Linked DNA regions of Homo sapiens: region 2 is reported to be linked to region 1. The links are microRNA targets in miRTarBase. Many come from high-throughput screens and were not tested one by one. Region 1 holds a microRNA gene; the other region holds the end of a gene's coding sequence.

Region 1 (7,122 bases):
ACACACATGCTAAAAAGTGGACTGTCTTTTAAAACTTCCAAGGTAAATAGGTAAATGTTTTCCACAGCCCAACAATCATTTCAGTGTTTACAAATTAAAAGGCCCACGGTTAAGACATTAAACAGTAAAATATGTAATAAATGCTCCAACCTACCCTCTCCCCCGAAAGCTGCTTCTAAGTTTAAAACCATGAATTTGACTAACCATGCCATTGAAAACCATCCAGGTTACTACAGGCTGAATTAGTTTTCAATGTCTAAGTCCTAGAAATATCACTCCCTATCCCAGCCCTAGCAAATTCTAACTTTACATTTGACATAAGGCATTAACATCAATTAAAGCCTCAGTTTAATAATCAGAATTTAAATGAAGTCTCCTGAAGACCTCTCTTCTGGCAAAAAAAAACACGTATCAGACTCTGGGAAAACATTCAGACCCACTTCTAGCTATTACTGAAATAAATGATTAGAAAGTTACGTTGGTGAGCCGAAGTTAAACCTAAAGCTATCCCCTGGATCTTTCTAGCAATAAACCCATGTTGAACCTACCATGAAAACTTTCATTCACTGTGCTTTTGGTTACGTTGCCTCCTGATTAGTCATTAATTTTAATGAGGTTTTTTCCTTGTGTTGAGTATGAATAGACCTTACAGTTTGAGGATCTCTAGAATTCCCTGAATTATTGGAAAGACATTCATGACTCCCAGTGTGACTAGTTAAGAGCCCCAGGGAGCCTGTGAAGACTAGAATCTACAAGTAACCTGCACTAAGAACGAAATTCAGTAAAGGAGACTCAAGCTTAGCTCCTGGCCATCTTAAAGGGCTAATGTATGTCTTTCACAGGTTTGTTCAACATTTCAGTAATTCACAGTATAGCCAAGAGCATGAGTATAAGTCTCTTGAAAAAGCCAGTTATTTGGAGCTTTTTAAATTATAAACTTTGAAAAAGTCACCCACGTTCTCACACTATATAGATGACTTTGTATCTATTTTACTATTTTCTCATTTAACCATACTAGCAAATAAGGAAAAAGGCTATTAAATGACTCCCCTGATGCTGGAAGCTGACAAAGCTTTTATGCAATTTAGCCTGTAACTAAAAATTCACCTGTATCAATTCATTCTGACTCCTGCAATATGAATAGCTCATTATAAAGAAGGGCCTTCTGATTCCCCCTGCCTCCCAAATTAAATAAAAAGGAACAGTCATTTGTTTTCATGGAAAAAAAAAACCAAACAAAAACAAAAAAAAAACCAGACCATCTTAAGCAAAGTTTTACATGACATTATATAAAATAAAGTACAATTTCCACTTAATTCAGTCTTCAAATATTTTTTATTGGAAGGCCATGCATTGCCTTCATTTATTGTATTTCAAATCACTGTACATTTACTTTTGTGAAAACACTGCCTGCATTTTCTAGTACAAAAAAAACCTAAAAATTGTTTCAGGAATGTAGAGAAATATCCAACTTAAATAGCGAAAAAGTGCACCATAATTACTGCTGCACTGCAGTCATTTCTGCAATTCCCATGTTTCTTAAATAACTATCTTGTCAGATAACACACAATATAAAGAGCAATTATGAAAAACAGACATTTACATATACTTCTAAAGTCTTATTGGGAATATCCTGTTGGCATTGGATAACCAATCATAGGTGCAGCTGCAGTAGCAGGATATGCATATGCCTGTTGGTTCATACCATTGTGCATATTTGGAACATTACTTCCGTATTGCTGAGTGCTATCATAACCATTCTGGTAAGTCCCTGTTGGATTACCAGTCCTAAAACTGGTCTGTATACCAGCAGACACAAAATTACTTCCAAAGCTCCCATTGGTGTAATTTGCAGCACTGTAAACACCATTCTGAGTTTTTGCCCCAAAATCTCTTTTAAGCAGGCTAGAGTAACCTCTGTCATAATTTTCCCTGTCTCTAAAGGTATTAAATCCACCCCTTTTGCCCGCAGAGTATCTGTCCCGACGGTCATCCTTCATGCCTCCTCTACCCCTGGAACGACCTGTCAAGAAAACAATTGCAAATTGATCAATTATGTCTATGACACAAATCATTGTGGACAGAAAGAAACAGATCTATTCATGGTAGGCGTGAAATGTTTTTACAATTTTTCAGCTTAAGTTTTCACATTCAAGGTTTTACTCACCCTCCAATACCATTTAAATGGATTTGTAGACAACGATGTGACTCGTAACTACCAACATTTCCTATCAGTCATCCTTACCTGAACCTCTGTCTTCGACCAACTGAAGCAACTTGGGATTAATTGCTTGATTAGCTTCACGAAGCACAGAGATAAGGTCGCTCACTTGCTTTATGTTATTAGGTGTAAAGAAAGTGTATGCTGTGCCTGTTTTGGTACTGCGAGCAGTTCTTCCAATTCGATGAATATAATCCTCTGAGGAGTTAGGGTAGTCATAATTGATGACAAATTTCACATCTTCCACATCTGTAAGGTGTTGCAGTGTGGCAAAATAGCAATGTACGGAGTTTTGCACACCACAACAGCCAGACCAAAAATAAAAAGTTAGACAATTGTATTCCCAAGAAGGTACGGGCTGCAAAAAATACAGTTAAAATGGTTATCCATTTCCTGTAGGAATACCATTGAGGTTGAAAAAAGAAAAAAAAGCACATGTCATCTGTATAATTCATCACCCACCCAGTGACAGACCCTGTCAAAAGGAATGTGTGTTCCCTAAGCACATTCCCAAATCAGCAAGTTCCCTTACAGATCATCAAGTGACATCTGAATGCTTCTGCGCAGTAGGGCCACTTAAAGTTTCACAGCAACCTCTTCATGTGCTCATTTTGAGGACCTTGAAACAAAAAAATGTACAAGGTCCTTTGCATTACACATTCATCAGAAGTTCAAAATTCTGGCCACACTGCTTGTCTTGCCAAGACCTTACAACCGCAGCTGCAAGAAAACATACCTGTCCCCCAAAAGTTGTTTTTATGCACTGTGTCTCGTCTAGGCAAGCGCTTCCAAGAAGCCAGGATTCACTTGAGAATGTGTCTCTCTCTGGCAGGTCTCGACATGACGACTACTGTGTAGGTGAGGGAGGAACTTTCAAAGCACTTTCTTTTCCCACTTACTATGTGTGAGAAGTTGCTCCTGCTCTAGATCTCATGTGCCAGTACTCACCAATTTGTAAAAGGCTTAGTACCTTTTAAAGCTGCTCTCTCCATTTCAAACTTGAACAAAAATTTCATTGAACATTGAAGTTTGGAACTACTTCTTCGACATTTCAGCAAACTCACTGAAACTCAAAGACCCACAGATCACAGTGAACAGTTTGAAACAAGGCTGTACCATGGCAGTCATGCAAAGCATGGGACAGAAGAAATACCACGGCAGTGAACTGTGAGGATAACTTCCATTTTTTCCCTCGGAGAGAACAGTTTACGGGGCAGAGGTGATATGTTCTGCCTTTTGAAGATTACTGGCACACGTTCAGCTTTTTCACCTCTCTAATCGACTGGAAGCAGCCAGCCGATCACTAGTCCTCCATCCCCCTCGAGTCCTCCGATTGTCATGCCTAGGCCTTGCCACAAAGACAGCACCTTTATGTGAAAAAAAACTTAGAAAAAATGCAGGTTAAAGAAAGCAATAAACTTTCTTTAAAAAAGTTAAATGGAGATCTTCTGGGAAACCAAGCCATGAATGCGAGTTTGTACTAACCTAGCCCTCTGGAGGCCACATCTGTAGCAATCAGAATAGGAGCTTTTCCATGTTTGAATTCTACAAAGGAAGGCATATACATGATCAATTATCTGAGCAGAATTCTAGCTAGGTTAAGTAAGGGGGAAAAATACTTCATTTGAAATATTTACCATTTAGAACCCAGTCACGCTCTTGTTGACTCTTGTCACCATGGATACCCATGGCAGGCCACCTAAGTTAAAAGACAAGTTGTGTTATTAAACTCACATTGAAAACCTCAGACTCCAGTGCTTGACCACTTTTGGTCACAGATCTCTTTAATTTCGCCAGAAATGAAAAAGTTAAATTCACTATCAGATATGAAAAAAATCCACTGCTCGTGATCCAAGTTTGCCCTTTCCTAAGCTGTTTTAATCAATCTGCTTCAATGGAGGAGCTCACACATACCCATCTCTCCTCATTTTTCTGGTAAGCTCATCACATCTTCTTTTGGTTTCCACAAAAACAATGGTTTTATTCTCCTTCTCACTCATGATCTCTTCCATTAGACGAATAAGTCTAATAATAGGAGAGAGAAAGGAAAAATCCTGAGTTTTAAAAGACCATTGCTAGGGCCACACATTTATGGTCAGCAAAACATTAAGTTCAATTTACATGGCTGGAAGTCAAAGAGGAAACGCCTGCTAATCCACTTATCGAGCAGTTCGACCCTTGGTCCTTAAGTCAACCAGGGGACACATGAATTCCTTCTATAGGAAAGCTATAAATGGTGACAGCCATTATTTGAAGGATTCAAGAAATTTTCAGGATTAGTAGGCTAACTAAATGAAATCACACCAACTGAAATAACCTAAAACAACTCACCAAACAATGATCCCTCAATTTTACAGCAAAGTTGTTAGGAAGCAAATATAACAGAGTTAATAAAACTTACTTTTCATCCTTTTCTACGTCATGACACACATCCACAATCTGAAGAATGTTGTGGTTTGCACTCAGTTCAAGTGCACCAATGTTTATATGAATATAGTCTTTCAGGAAATCTTCAGCAAGCTGTCTTACTTCTTTTGGCCAAGTCGCACTCCACATTAGAGTTTGCCTATCAGGCTAATGGATTTTGGGGGGAAAAATTAGTATCAGACTCTTAAGAGTGAAAACACAATTCAGTTTGATCACATATTTCAAAGGACACTTACTCTTATTTGATCCACAATCTTCCTTATTTGGGGTTCAAAGCCCATATCAAGCATTCTATCTGCTTCATCAAGGACAAGGTAGGTTGTTCTTCTCAGATTGGTTTTTCCACACTCTAAAAAGTCAATCAGTCTTCCAGGTGTTGCAATACAGATTTCCACACCTTTAATTAAATACGTAAGTGTAACTACAATACCTAGGATATTTAGCACCAATGACAAATAAAACCCTTTTCATTACATACCTCTCTCCAAATCACGTATTTGTGGTCCCTTAGGAGCACCACCGTAGATACAAGTAGACTTCAAGCGACATGCTCTACAATATTCAGCAGCTACTTGCTGCACCTGTTGGGCCAGTTCCCGAGTTGGTGCCAGCACCAAACACTAAGGAAAGAGAAACAGCTTTCAGCACAAACCTGGATACTAGTTTTAAACTGCTAACTTATTATACTAGCAGATCCTTTCTTCATGTGTTGTCCAATACCCAAAACAGCTCCAGCTGAATAGGGTGAGCTAACCTCTATATAAAACCACCACAAATGATTACATCTTTAGCTATGTAGTCTAAAATCTACACATTATGCTTCTAATAAAAAGTTAAAAATATATACTTACAATAGGCCCATCGCCTCTCTCTAGGAATGGCTGATGATTGATGTGGACAATGGCAGGAAGCAAATACTATTTAGGGTGAAAGTGGGGACAAACAGAAATCACATTAAAATACTCGTTTTTAAATTACCATTACATTTTCTTGCATATATCAGATCAACTCAAGAGTTCTCCCAAACTTACAGACAATGTTTTCCCAGATCCAGTCTGTGCCACTCCAACCATATCCAATCCACTTAGAGCAACTGGCCATCCCTGAGCTTGAATAGCAGTGGGTTCAGTGAAATTCTGTCTTGCAATAACATCCATGACATTTGCTATAATTAGTAACAGATATTTAGTAAAAATTAGTGATGCCAAGAAAAAGAGGGGGTAGGTGGAAACAAAAACACGGGTAGGTAGAACTGAAAAGTAGCACTTACCAGGGAAATTGGCTTCATAAAAATTTAGAACTGGCTTCGGGCAGTTGTGACCTCTAACTGTAATTTCCTTGCTTCTTCTGTATGTTTCCACCTCTTGCTGCAAAACAAATTATAACAGTCTTAAAATTCATGACAACCACCCCTAGCTAAATACGTAATTGATAAGCCCCTAACTTCATAATTTAGTAACTAGTTTAAAGTAGCCTTCATTTTAATCTGGACCCACCTATGAACACCCTATTATGAAAAAAAAAATTTATTGTTATACTCAACCTAATTTAAGTAAAAATCCCAAAGCCACCTATATCCAAAAGTGAGTCACACCTTTCCCAATTATGAAGTCAGAACATGTAACTCTACCAAAATTGAGTTATTTGCAAAACACCTGTCAGAATTTCATTTACTAGAATCCACGATCGAGTTACAGCCTGATGAAGCCACATGAATTTACTCACTGCTGTGCGCCTAGCCAAATCAGGGTGCTCTTGATAAAAATTCTTCTCAAATTTAGGCAGCTCATCAAGATTCCACTTCTTTTTAACTAATTTCTCCCCAGGGTTTCCAAACTTCTTTCCAGATAAGGGCCCTGCCCTACTTCCTCCAAATCGAGGTGCACCAAACCTGGAATGAAAAAAAACGTTATTCACATTTTCAAATGGCTATACCCAGGTTTCTGTATAGATTTGTCATCCATTGGCACAAGCTAAAAACCACTGAAAACAGACTTCGAGAGGTAAACCTAGCACTGTCCTTCGTGAAAATCTCTCTCTCTCTCAACAGCCACAGTTAACATTTCCCGTAGTCCCAAGTACACATTACTTAGGTCATGTAAACAGCCTGGGATTTATCATGTCGGAAGCCGGGGATTTATCATGTCGGAAACTTGTCACCCACATGCCAGAATTTGGGATTCTGGCACACACCACTTCTTGTGGTTACTGTAATCTTCCCCACCAGCCTAGCAATTCACTATCAGCAATAACAAGGCTACATGAACCGAAGAGCATCACGACGATGTTACTCATATGGCCGTTTTGGAACCAAACAGCTTTAGTGGTAAGAACCTAAACAGTACAGTCAGCGATAACAGAACAAGGGTTTTCTCAGAAACACTTCTGCTAGCAAACCCAGCTGGGGGAACGCCGCGGTAGAGCTCCGGATCAACGAATCAAAATTATATAACGCAGGAAAAAAGAAAAGGAGG
Region 2 (7,122 bases), not on the chromosome of region 1:
ACTCAACATCAGATCATTCCTACCGAAGAGAAACCCTGTAAATGGAAAGAATGTGGCAAGGTCTTTAACCTTAACTGTAGTTTATACCTTACTAAACAGCAGCAAATTGATACTGGAGAAAACCTTTACAAATGTAAAGCATGTAGCAAATCTTTTACTCGTTCCTCCAATCTTATTGTGCATCAGAGAATTCACACTGGAGAGAAACCATACAAATGTAAAGAATGTGGCAAAGCCTTTCGCTGTAGTTCATACCTTACTAAACATAAGCGAATTCATACTGGAGAGAAACCTTATAAATGTAAAGAATGTGGAAAAGCTTTTAACCGTAGTTCATGCCTTACTCAACATCAGACAACTCATACAGGAGAAAAACTTTACAAATGTAAAGTATGTAGCAAATCTTATGCTCGTTCTTCAAATCTTATTATGCATCAGAGAGTTCATACTGGAGAGAAGCCTTATAAATGTAAAGAATGTGGCAAAGTCTTTAGCCGTAGTTCTTGCCTTACTCAACATCGGAAAATTCATACTGGAGAAAATCTTTACAAATGCAAAGTATGTGCTAAACCTTTTACTTGTTTCTCAAATCTTATTGTGCATGAGAGAATTCATACTGGAGAGAAACCCTATAAATGTAAAGAATGTGGCAAAGCCTTTCCTTATAGTTCACACCTTATTCGACATCATCGAATTCATACTGGAGAAAAACCATACAAATGTAAAGCATGTAGCAAATCTTTTAGTGACTCCTCAGGTCTTACTGTGCATCGGCGAACTCATACTGGAGAGAAACCCTATACATGTAAAGAATGTGGCAAAGCCTTTAGTTATAGTTCAGATGTTATTCAGCATCGGAGAATTCATACTGGCCAGAGACCCTACAAATGTGAAGAATGTGGCAAAGCCTTCAACTATAGGTCATACCTCACTACACATCAGAGAAGTCATACTGGAGAGAGACCCTACAAATGTGAAGAATGTGGCAAAGCCTTCAACTCTAGGTCATACCTCACTACACATCGGAGAAGACATACTGGAGAGAGACCCTACAAATGTGATGAATGTGGTAAAGCCTTCAGCTATAGGTCATACCTCACTACACATCGGAGAAGTCATAGTGGAGAGAGACCCTACAAATGTGAAGAATGTGGCAAAGCCTTTAACTCTAGGTCATACCTCATTGCACATCAGAGAAGTCATACTAGAGAAAAACTTTAAAAATGTAAAACATGGAGCAGATTTTTTACTTGTTACCCATGTCTTATTGTGCATCAGATAATTTATATGGGAGTGAAACCCTACAAATGTTAAGAATGTGGCATAACCTTTAACTATTTTCAAGCCTTACACAATAGCAGAGAATATAAACTGAAAAAATCCATACAAATATTAAAAATGTGGCAAATTATTTTAAACTGTGCTCAACCCTTACTCAAGATAATCCATACTAGAGAAACACTATAGATGTAAAAATGTGAAAAGTTTTATTCAAAATATCAAACTTATGAGTCACCTAGGGGTTCATAGAAAAAGGAAGTTTGCAGATGCAATAAATGTGAGGAAGTATTTAATAAAAAATGAAGTCTAAATGTGTCAGAGAATTTATGTGAGAAAGGACTAAAGCACAGACACTTTCAGCCTTTATACTAAATAAGAGTATTTTTTGTACAGAATAATCTAAAGGCAAAATAATTAGATAATTTATTTGCTTATATGTTTTAAAGTAGCAAGAACATTGATGTTTTGACAGGTATATTTCATAGATACTTCATTTGTATTTACAGTATTTGAGGTTTTTGGAAAGCAAATATTATTTATATAATTCAGCTTTCAAATCTGTTGCTGCTTTTCCTTAATCCGTGGTGTTCATGTGAAAATATGTGTTCTGTTTTTTTTTCTGCATCAGAACAATGTGAGGTCATTCTACGTTAATATCATTAATATCAGCATTTTTCATGGAAGTTTAATGCCAAATGTAAAACACATGAAAATTTTTAAAAATATGCTCTTTGTGTTTGAATAAAGTAGTAATGCATGTAAACATATACGTGTTTAGAGCTCTTTTCTATATTAAAGTAAGAGGGATATTCTGAATTTTTGAAATTACTTCAATTCCTCCATAAGTTTTTTTTTTTTTTTTTTTTTAAAAAGACTTCATTTAAAGCAGAGGTCCCCATTCCCAGGCTGTAGACCAGTTACTGGTCTGTGGCCTGTTAGAAACTGAGCTGCACCAGTAGGACATGAGTGGTGGGTGAGCAAGCATTACCACCTGAGCTCTGCCTCCTCTCAGATGAGTGGTGGCATTAGATTTTCATAAACCCTATTGTGAACTATGCATGTGAGGGATCTAGGTTGTGTGCTCCTTAGGAGACTCCAACTAATGCCTGATGACCTGAGGCAGAACATTTTCATCCCAAAACCATCTCTCTCCTTGCCAGTTTGTAGAAAAATTGTCTTCCATGAAACCAATCCCTGGTGCCAAAAAGGTTAGGACCACTGAGTTGAAGTACTAACATATCTTTAAAACAGAATAAAGTAGGAGTCTTTAGTATTATTTGATGTGATAGAATACATAGTGAAAAAGTTGAGTATTTGATGTGATGAGAATAACATCTTCACCTGTATCAGGGAAATGTGAAGATAATTCCTATCAACATTCACTAAATAATTAGCCTCACTTTAAAAAAACGTAGAAAACAGAACTGCAAGATTAGTATATTGGAAAAAAAGAATGCTTCTTGAGTACTTGTAACTGTATTTTGACCAGGAAGAATATAGTGGATTTTAAAATGCTGTAGACTATGGGTGAACTTAATTTCTTTTAATAAAATGAGTTGGTTTTTCATGTTTTAACACTGATGTACAATGAATGAAATGTTGTACTGACACCAGTGTTAAACTATTCCATCTTATCTAAGATTGTGGTTAACAGATGGAAATAATATACTATGGGTTAACAGTGAAATGTCTTCCCTAATATTCCTTTTGCTGGAGGACTTAAACTTTCAATAATTTGGAGAATAGTTTTCTCATAGTGACTATCTTAATAATGATTAGATAAGGCAGGTAAGATTGAAAGGCCACAACTTAGCAGCAAATGTTTTACATTCATTTGAGAGCCAGTTTGTAAGTAGTTCACCAAAAGATGTTGGGTTAAAGCAGTGGTTTGAATTAATTGCATAGCATTCATATAACAGAATACAACTCAGCCTAAAGCTCACACCCTATATGAATCTCATAGACCTCGTAAGTGAAAAAAGGTAGACATAAAATTGTGTTTTGTATATTTATGTATTGTATTATTTCAGGCAAAATAAACCTATGGTGAAATAAACACATTGATAGCCTCTGGCTGAGGAAGAAAAGATAGGTGCCTGGGACAAAACACGAGTGAATTTTCTGAAGATGATGAAAATGTTCTGTTTCTAAACTAGGTGAAGGTCGTAAGGGTTTATTTGTCAAAAATTTACAACTAGAGTTTGCGTCAGCCCATTGGTGCTGCAGAGTCTGTTTCCTTTGGGTTGGGACCTCATTCCTTTGAGTTGGGACTTCACCTCATTCAAGTCCTGGCAGAGTCACTAGAAGAGATGTGATGATCTTGTCCCAGACCCCAAGAGTGGGTTCTTGAATCTCACACAGGAAAGAATTCTTGGTGAGTTGCAGAGTGTAGTAAAGTTTATTAGAGACTACTCAGTTACAGAGTAGGGCATCCTCAGAAAGCAGGAAGAGGAATGCCTTGCAATGAGAAGAGATAGTTTATTGAAAGCTCCTCTGTTAGAGTAGGCCTTCCTCAGAAAGCAAGAGGAGAAATGCACCCATTTCAAATGGTTATATAGGTTATTAAGAATGGTATACTTTATTACAGAGGATTCTAATCAGCTTATGACAGGCTATTAGTATTGTTACTTTTCTATGTTACTATTGATTTCAGCAAGAATTTATGAGTACTATTTTTAAAGCAAAACATACTTAAACTAATAATGCTTTTTCTTAAAGTACTGGGACATTTTCTTAAGTTTTGAGTTCTTATTTAGTTGATTAACATCATTAACTCAGTGTTTCAACCATAAACATCTTGTGACCAAGAGTGCCCAGCCCCCTCGGAAAGTAATCCAGCAGGTTTGGCATTTTTTTTTTTTTTTTCTTGAGACAGAGTCTCGCTGAGTTGCCCAGGCTGGACTGCAGTGGTGCAATCTCGGCTCACTGCAATCACCGCCTCTTGGGCGTAAGCCATTCTCCTGCCTCAGCCTCCCGAGTAGCCGGGATTACAGGTGCCCGCCACCACACCCGGCTAATTTATATATTTTTAGTAGAGACAGGGTTTCACCATGTTGGCCAGGCTGTTTTTGAATCTCTGACCTCAGCTGATCTGCCCACTTCAGCCTCCCAAAGTGTTGGGATTACAGGTGCGAGCCACTGTGCCCGGCCATAGGTTTGGCTTTACCTGGCCTTTATTCAAGATAGGGCCTCTAGTTAGGATACTTCTGGCAGAATTAGCATGATTGTTATCTGAGAGTGGTCTATCACACTGCAGTGAGGAAGGGTGTTGAACAGCGACTAAGGTGTAATGGCTGCTCATTTGGCTACAGAGGTCCAGCTAGCAGCAAAAGTATAATGACTTGAGTAGGAATTACAGTTAGGAAAAGGATTTTTAAAGAGCTCTATAGTCCAAAGTTGACTTAATAAAAACTGATATTTACTCTACGTACATACACATATGCATGGTTTTAAGATCTCCTCTCTCTGTAAAAGTCAAATGAATTCTGTTTCTCCATTTACTTCTGTCTGTCCTTCCTCTTGCCACTCCAAATGCCACATGAGGGGAACGCCCCCCAAAAAAAGAATTCTAACAGAATTCTAGCCTAGAATCACAGAAAACAGAAAAGTTGTCACAGTCTCCTCCTCTTGGGAGGAAACTGCTTTTTCTCATGAGGCCCTCAGAGTTGTAAGCAGAGAGATCCCTCTCAGGTCTAACACTCTGCTCTTTCTTGTATTGCATTACTTGATCTCCTTGGCTTTGGGGGATACCAGAGATTACATTGTACTATGAGAGAACTTGACTAGGTGGATGTAATTGCTGGTGAGTCACTGGCAAGAGCTATGGTGTTAGAGGGCTGACAGCAGTCGCTTACAGTAAATGTTTATTACTCTAGGGAGTTGCTTATTTCTTTGGGTGTTTGGATAGAAAAAGTATGGTTTAGAATGTAGAGGCTACAGAAACAGCCCCCAAGCCACCCCACCGAGGGGTAAGACACCCATGTGGGATGCAGTAATCATAGTGTGTGCTGGCATAGGATTGCCTACCAACCTCAAATGAATGTCCCTCTACTGAGGTGCACTATGGAATCATTGAACTGCCCAGTCCTCTGGCATGGCATTTCTTTTGGGGGCTCAGAATTCAATGTAAAAATGGGATTCTTGATTTGGGAGAATCTAAGTGTTATGCCTTCCAGCTGCTCCTGCTTTGCACATATTTAAATATTAAGCCCTAAAAACTGCATGCTTCCTTTGCTTTATTTATTAAGTGGCTCCACCCTGAAGCCAGTAATCTAAAAAACACACTACGTTAAAAAGCCCATCTAGCCAACTAAATCAGTCTCCAAAATGTGCAACTTTCCGACATTTAGCTGGCTGTTTTGCTTCTCTTTGTTAAAACACACACACACACACACACACACACACACACACACACACACACACGAATACTTTTCTCCAGGACCTGGGAACAATGTATTTGAAATATAAATACGAAAAAAGATAGTACCCGATCTCACAATTTTGCAGTAAGATAGAAGCCTAATTTTATCAGGCACTTAATTCCAAGTTGCAAAACAATTTTCTGTCACAAAAGTTGGAAGTTTATTTTCCCCCCCGGTTTTTTTTTTGAGACGGAGTCTCGCCCTGTCGCCCAGACTGGAGAGCAGTGGCACAGTCTCGGCTCACTGCAAGCACCGCCTCCGGGGTTCACGCCATTCTCCTGCCTCAGCCTCCCGAGTGGCTGGGACTACAGGCACCTGCCACCACGCCCAGCTAATTTTTTGTATTTTTAGTAGAGACGGGGTTTCACCGTGTTAGCCAGGATGGTCTCAATCTCCTGACCTCGTGATCTGCCCGTCTCAGCCTCCCAAAGTGCTGGGATTACAGGCGTCAGCCACCGCGCCCGGCCTATTTTTCCTTTTAATAAAGCCAGTTATCAAACCTAGATCATCTTTCTAGTTACCAGGTGAATTTAGGATAAACTGTGCCAAATGGTGCTGTCAAATTTTCCTACTTGAGGGCTACTAATATTAATCTTGACAACACATATGTTTTATAACTCAAACCAGACTGTGATGTTTAAACACTACATGTTTTGCTTCTGATGCACATCACATTCTGGTTTGAGTTATAAAACAATTTTATCTCTCTTCTACCTTTGTGGGGAGGCATTCTAGGTTGGGAGGCAATGTTGTTTTAATTATATTTCCCAAGCACTGTTCAGAATTACAAGATCAAATATAAACATAAAAGGTACCGATCAGGTTTCATACTAGAAGGGACTTTGGCAGATACCCATCAAATTTTCTTTCAGGCTTTCTTCCCCCAAGCCACAATTGTTCAGTGAAGATCTTGCCTGCCCTCAAAATGTGAATGCAGTATGATCTTGCTGCCTATTTTGGGCTCTGCAGTTTCATCTGGGGCATAGTTAGAAAAGATTTGTAATAAAATAACCTCATAAAGTGGCAATCATCCGTTCCAGCCCTGTCTTTCAATGTACCTGGGGACTTTATAACAGAAATTGATTCAGAGAACATGGGGCCTGGTAGCACAGACATGTACCTGCGCATTGAGTTGGCCTCTTCCACTTCCCTGTCTCTCTGGGAACCTAAATCTGCACCACTAAATTTTGAATGCAGTATCTGGGGCTCTTCAGAATGCTCTATAGCAGCCTTCCTGGAAGGAATCTCTTTTCCTCTTGTCTCTTCTTGCTGTAAAACCCAAGAATACAGAACAGATGCGATCCCTCATAGAATTTGCACACAAGGGGAATTTGCCTCCCCGTGAGATTCATAAAACAGGGCCAGCCTTCAGTCTGAGGATTACAGAAAATCCAGGGCAGACCTTTCTTGTATCATGAGA

What was found. Region 1 holds the annotated microRNA hsa-miR-3064-3p (UUGCCACACUGCAACACCUUACA, at 2,472-2,494, opposite strand). A microRNA usually pairs through its seed, bases 2 to 8, with sites in the 3' UTR of a target mRNA and lowers its output. Matches are read on the target gene's strand: a 7mer-m8 pairs with bases 2 to 8, a 7mer-A1 pairs with bases 2 to 7 and ends in A, and an 8mer does both.
Region 2: miRTarBase lists ZNF267 as a target of hsa-miR-3064-3p. Seed matches in the 3' UTR shown: 7mer-m8 at 1,318-1,324 and 8mer at 1,400-1,407.

What each region holds. Positions count from the first base shown.
Region 1 is chr17:64,498,304-64,505,425 of GRCh38, forward strand. MIR3064 (microRNA 3064) reads right to left here and starts at 2,536; the gene lies at 2,471-2,536. DDX5 (DEAD-box helicase 5) reads right to left here. Exons shown (of 13, transcript NM_004396.5): 2 at 6,374-6,539; 3 at 5,919-6,015; 4 at 5,680-5,813; 5 at 5,500-5,565; 6 at 5,127-5,268; 7 at 4,885-5,045; 8 at 4,623-4,795; 9 at 4,136-4,246; 10 at 3,859-3,920; 11 at 3,707-3,766; 12 at 2,246-2,470; 13 at 1-2,023. The coding sequence ends at 1,620. MIR5047 (microRNA 5047) reads right to left here and starts at 3,010; the gene lies at 2,911-3,010. RefSeq lists a silencer at 7,077-7,122.
Region 2 is chr16:31,915,261-31,922,382 of GRCh38, forward strand. It overlaps ZNF267 (zinc finger protein 267), which reads left to right. Exons shown (of 4, transcript NM_003414.6): 4 at 1-2,097. The coding sequence ends at 1,221. Among named protein-coding and RNA genes, the nearest start is that of ZNF267, 45 kb to the left of the region's middle.